2 separate regions of the Homo sapiens genome follow, and region 1 is linked to region 2. The links come from fine-mapping of genetic effects on gene expression. Tissue or cell type: whole blood. Region 2 holds a variant in brackets; the other region holds the start of a gene. All regions are shown on one strand. Distances are from middle to middle.

Region 1 (2,855 bases), 27 kb after region 2:
TCCCTACAAATGTCTGTGTCTCTGGAAATGACTCAGGGATTCTGTCCAAGACTGCAAGCCCTGAGAAGCTGTGTTTGACTCATCTCTGTGCCCCTAAGCCTGAGGTAGGGACTCAGCCCATTTGCTGGCTCATGACTAAGAAAACTCATAGAGCAGAAATAAAAGGGCCCACCTGGTTTGGTCTTAGCTCTGCAATGTCTCCAACCACTAGACTCTCCATCAGCTTCACCCGGTCACTACCAAGTATCTTGGTCTGGGGAAGAGATTGAAAGCCTCAGGCCATTGCAACAGCTACAATCCAAAAGGCTACTAAGCAAGGATGCATCCTCCCTGCCATCCACAGTGCAGTCCAGCCCACCCAAAGTGACTAACCAGTCTTTTGGTTCTACACGTGGCAAAGGACCACCTTCTGATTTCCTGACCTCCCCCAGTCACTCTGTGTGGGGGGACTGCCAGGGAACTGGACAGGACCTAGCACCTTCCTGAAATAACCCCTTTTCAAACCAACATCCAGCCCAATACATGAGAGTGGGTGTCAGCCCTGGAAAACCCGGGACATTAAGGCACACCATTTAATGGGGGCAAGCTAGAAGGATGAGATGATGAGACCCTCTGAGCTCATTTCCTTGGGGCCATTGACCTATCCATGACACCCCCATGACCTCTAGCTCTTCTGAGAAGGCTGTCCTTGGAATCCAGTTCACAGCAAACAAAGCCAAGGAGTGGACCACTGTAAACAGGGAGGAAGGCCTGATCAGATGGCCAGTGTGCTCCCCTGGCTCACCTGCAGCATATGAGACACGTCAAAGAGCGAGCAGTGCTGGCGTGTGTGCAGGTGCGAGTCAGTGTGACTGTCCCGGTACTGCACTGGCAGACTCCAACCCGCAAACGCCACCATTTTCCCGCCGTGGGCCAGGTGGAAGTCATAGAGCGGTGTCCTGCGGAGCACCTCCTGTGGGCGGCTGGGCTTAGTGCCACCAGGGCCCTAGCCCCCAGCCGCTTCCCTCCCCCACCCTCCAAGATCAGCACCCTCTATCCCACCTGTGCGCAACTAAGTGGACGACACAAGGCCGGGGGGAATGCCTGCAGGCGAAAGCCCAGACGGGCCACCACACTTACAGCCCTCTGCATCGTCGCCTGCAACGAGTGCAGACGGCGCACAGAGGCCACCACACTGCCAGGCACGCCGGGAGATGTAGTCCAGGCCTCTGCTCGGACAGGTCTCTCTCCGGAGCAAAGGATCTGAAGGGGGCGTGGGCAGCCCCAAGGGCAGGCTGGGATTTAGAGCAGAGAATGCAGGAACCCGCAACCACAGGGAAGAAGCCTCCAGCTCTTTCGGCTGACTCTTCAGGGCAGCTCGGGCAATCCAGAGCTGATTGGGCTGCCCAGAACAAAGCTAGGGGCTAGACCGCCCCCTGCAGAACCGCCCTGTCTCCAGAGGGTCAAAGTTCTGGAAAGGGCTGAAAGGTCTGAATCATACCTTTAGGACCTCAAGAGAGTAAGGTCAAGTGGGGGTGGGGAAGGTGGGCCAGCCTGGCAGGTAGGCAGCACCACAGTAGTCTGTCCTCATGTGGACCCCTAGTTCCACAGCTCTCCCACCAGGCAGACACAGGCAGCCAGCAGTCATGCATTCCACAAGTATTTATTGATCTTACTGCATACCAGGCCCTCAGATGGGGACACAGCCACGAATGAAGCATGGTCCCTGCTACCACAAGGTCCTCTTCACTTACACACACACTGAGGACTACTGCTTCGTCACGCTTTCCGAAGCAGCTGAGTGGGGCTATGTAAGTGACCTTGCAGATGAAGTCGCCACCTGCAAGAACTCACAGGTGAGAACAGAGGGTGGCCACCAAAAGGTCACTGAACTCCCCCGAGAAAACTGTTGAGCCACACACATGTCCAACTTTCCAGGTCCAAGACATACTGCAGTACTGCTTTGTAATAGCCACCAGGTGCAAAGCCAGGAAGAACCAGAGGGAAACAGGTTTTTCTCACATGAGGGAAGAGCAGCCTGCATCACTTAATGGTTGGACTGAGTTAATGCAGGACTTAGGCCTCTTAAAAGGCAACAATGAGAACCCTTACTTGGACCCACTCCCCACCACGGTTGATCTCTCATTATGCTGAGCATATCTCTTGGAAAGGGGCAGGGCGGGCGCGGTGGCTCATGCCTGTAATCCCAGCACTTTGGAAGGCCAAGGCAGGCAGATCACCTGAGGTCAGGTGTTTGAGACCAGCCTGACCAACATGGAGAAACCCCATCTCTACTACAAATACAAAATTAGCCAGGCATGGTGATGCATGACTGTAATCCCAGCTACTCGGGAGACTGAGGCAGGAGAATTGCTTGAACCTGGGAGGCGGAGGTTGCAGTTAGCCAAGATTGCACTATTGCACTCCAGCCTGGGCAACAAGAGCAAAACTCAACCTCAAAAAAAACAACAAAAAAGGAGAGGGGCAACTGGGAGAAAGGATAGAGATGTGCTTTGGGCTATGTCAGATGGCAGAAGGGTCCCAGTTCTTTTTTTTTTGTTTGTTTGTTTAAGATGGAGTTTCGCTCTTCTTGCCCAGGCTGGAGTGCAATGGCATGATCTCAGGTCCGCAACCTCCACTTCCCGGGTTCAAGAGATTCTCCTGCCTCAGCCTCCCAAGTAGCTGGGATTACAGGTGCCTACCACCACGCCCAGCTAATTTTTTGTATTTTTAGTAGAGACGGGGTTTCTCCAGGTTGGTCAGGCTGGTCTTGAACTCCTGACCTCAGGTGATCCGCCTGCCTGGGCCTCCCAAAGTGCTGGGATTACAGGCGTGAGCCACTGCACCCTGCCTAGAAGGGTCCCAGTTCTTATGCT
Region 2 (2,903 bases):
CACTGTCTTCTATGGGCCATTCCTTGTTCTAGCTACTAGAGATACAGCTTTATCTGGAAAACACTCAGGGAAAACAGCACAATGTAATTAAGTGCTGTAACAAAAGCTTATCTTCTCTGGTATGAACTCAGAGAAAAGGCAAGTGATTCTGCCAGAGAGCTTCAGATAAGATGATATCTGACCTGGATGGACCTTGAAGAAGGAGGACAAGTCCCCTGGAAAGAGCGGTAACGATGGTTCAGGAATACTTTCTAAGGTGAGGAAACAGCTTGAGCAAATAACCTCAATGACCAGTAACACAAGAATTTGGCGGTCGGGCGCGGTGGCTCACGCTTGTAATCCCAGCACTTTGGGAGGCCGAGGCGGGCAGATCACGAGGTCAGGAGATCGAGACCATCTTGGCTAACACGGTGAAATCATGTCTCTACTAAAAATACAAAAAAAAACAGCCGGGTGTGGTGGCAGGCACCTGTAGTCCCAGCTACTCGGGAGGCTGAGGCAGGAGAATGACGTGAACCCGGGAGGCGGAGCTTGCAGTGAGCCGAGATCGCACCACGGCACTCCAGCCTGGACGACAGTGCAAGACTCCGTCTCAAAAAAAAAAAAAGAATTCAGAAAGGAGATTTTTGAAAATAAGGGTGGAAAGATGGGGCGATGGTTAGACCAGAGGATATGGTATGTCATGCAGAGCAATCTGCATTCTATTCTGTAAGGAAGGGAAAGCCACTGGACCAGCACAATCAGGTCTGTAATTAATAGAGAAACAAAGCCTGGCCGGGCACGGCTGTTCACACCTGTAATCCCGGCACTTTGGGAGACTGAGAGGGGTGCAGATCACCTGAGGTCAGGAGTTCAAGACCAGCCTAGCCAACATGGTGAAACCCCATCTCTACTAAAAATACAAAAATTAGCCAGGCGTGGTGGTGGGCGCCTATAATTTCAGCTACTCGGGAGGCTGAGGTAGGAGAATCGCTTGAACCCAGGAGGCGGAGGTTGCAGTGAGCCAAGATCACACCACTGCACTCTAGCCTGGGCAACAGAGCGAGACTCTGTCTCCAAAAAAAAAGAAGAGGAAGAAACAGAGCCTTGGCAGGGCACGAAAAGTGATTGAGTGGTTAACTGGATAGGGATGAGAAAACTATGGCAAGGGTATGAGGGTGCCCAAAAGAAAGAACCCTAATGGAAGGGGAGGTGGAATGGGCACAATCTAAGGAGGCGTTTTCCAAACCTCACAAACATTTCCCCACAGTCAGCTGAAAAATATCAGTGCCCAGGTAAGCTGTTATTACA[G/A]GTAAAAACAGCATAGTCTTCCAGTGTATGGAATGGAGAGGGGCAGTGATCTAGCCAAAGAGTGCCACCAACACAAAGGAAGTGGTGGTCATGAAGAAGCCAGAAATAACTGAAATGCTCAAAAAGGTATGATGATAATGAACACCAAGAAAAAAGGAAGAACACATTACAAGAAAAGAGTCCAAACTACATGCTTGCAAAAAGAACACAGGTCTATGAGGAGGTGTCCAGCAACAGGAGAAAACCTTTTCATATAGCCACAGGCAAGAGTAGATGGCAGTGAATTGAGAAAACGTGGGCACTGAGATATGTGGTGGAAAATGTTCTTTCAAGAAGTCAGCCCGGGGCCAGGCCTGGTGGCTCACGCCTGTAATCCCAGCACTTTGGGAGGCTGAGGAGGATGGATCATTTGAGATCAGGAGTTAGAGACCAGCCTGGCCAACATGGTGAGACCCTGACTCTACTAAAAATACAAAAAATTAGTTGGGCGCGGTGGCTCGCACCTGTAATCCCAGTACTTTGGAAGCCAAGGTGGGCGGATCACGAGGTCAGCAGTTCGAGACCAGCCTGGCCAACATAGTGAAACCTTACCTCTACTAAAAATACAAAAATTAGCCGGACATGATGGCACACGTCTGTAATCCCAGCTACTCGGGAGGCTGAGGCAGGAGAATCGCTTGAACCTGGGAGGTGGAGGTGTCAGTGAGCCAAAATCGTACCACTGCTCTCCAGACTGGGCAACAAGAGCAAAACATCACACACAAAAAAAGTCAGGCCGGGTGCAGTTATCAGCACTCTGGGAGGCTGAGGTGGGAGAACTGCTTAAGCACGAGTTCAACACCAGCCCGGGCAACATAGTGAGACCACATCTTTACTAAAAAAAATTTTTTTAAAGTAGTCAGCCTGGGCTTGGTGGCTCATGCCTATAATCCCAGCACTTTGGGAGGCTGAGGTGGGAGGATCACTTGAGCCCAGGAGTTCAAGACTGGCCTGGTCAACATGGTGAGAGCTTGTCTCTACAAAAAATAAAAATATTACCCAGGCGTGGTAGCATATACCTGTGGTCCCACCTACTCTGCAGGCTGAGGTGGCAGGATCGCTTGGGCCCAGGAGGGCAAAGTGGCAGTGAGTAGTGATCGAGACACTGCACTCCAGCCTGGGTGACAGAGCAAAATCCTGTCTCAAAAAAAAAAAAAAAAAAAGTCAGAAAATAAATGTTACAACATGGATGAACCTTTAAAACATTGCATAAATGAAAGAAGCCAGTCACAAAAGACAATATATGATTCCATTACACGAAATATCCAGAATAGGCAAATCTATAGAGACACAAAGTAGATTAGTGGTTACCTAAGGCTGGGCGTGGTGATAGGGAGATTGAAGATGACAGTTGAAGAACATAGGGTTTCTTTTTGAGGTGATAATAATGTTCTAAAATTGACTGTAGTGATACACGTAAAACTCTGTGAATATACTAAAACCCACCAAACTGTTCATTTCAAATGAATGGTGTGATATATGAATTATATCTCAGTAAAATTGTTACCAAAAGAGTTGGTTTTTGTTTTTTTAAAAAAAATAAGCGTTGAAAGTATGGCAGAGACTGCCTGCTT

Evidence for each region. PIP is the estimated chance that this variant, and not a neighbour inherited with it, causes the effect. A credible set is the group of variants that fine-mapping cannot tell apart.
Region 1: AMT starts here. The variant in region 2 is the best candidate, but not a certain one, in a credible set for the expression of AMT in whole blood (TOPMed, PIP 0.86).

The regions. Positions count from the first base shown.
Region 1 is chr3:49,421,320-49,424,174 of GRCh38, forward strand. AMT (aminomethyltransferase) reads right to left here and starts at 1,154. Exons shown (of 9, transcript NM_000481.4): 1 at 1,042-1,154; 2 at 785-952; 3 at 173-253. The coding sequence starts at 1,131. It overlaps NICN1 (nicolin 1, tubulin polyglutamylase complex subunit), which reads right to left. Exons shown (of 6, transcript NM_032316.3): 6 at 1,014-2,855. RefSeq lists enhancers at 29-781, 782-1,535.
Region 2 is chr3:49,394,657-49,397,559 of GRCh38, forward strand. The region is part of intron 1 of RHOA (ras homolog family member A); the gene reads right to left. Among named protein-coding and RNA genes, the nearest start is that of RHOA, 16 kb to the right of the region's middle. The variant G/A (reference allele first, on the strand shown) is at 1,291.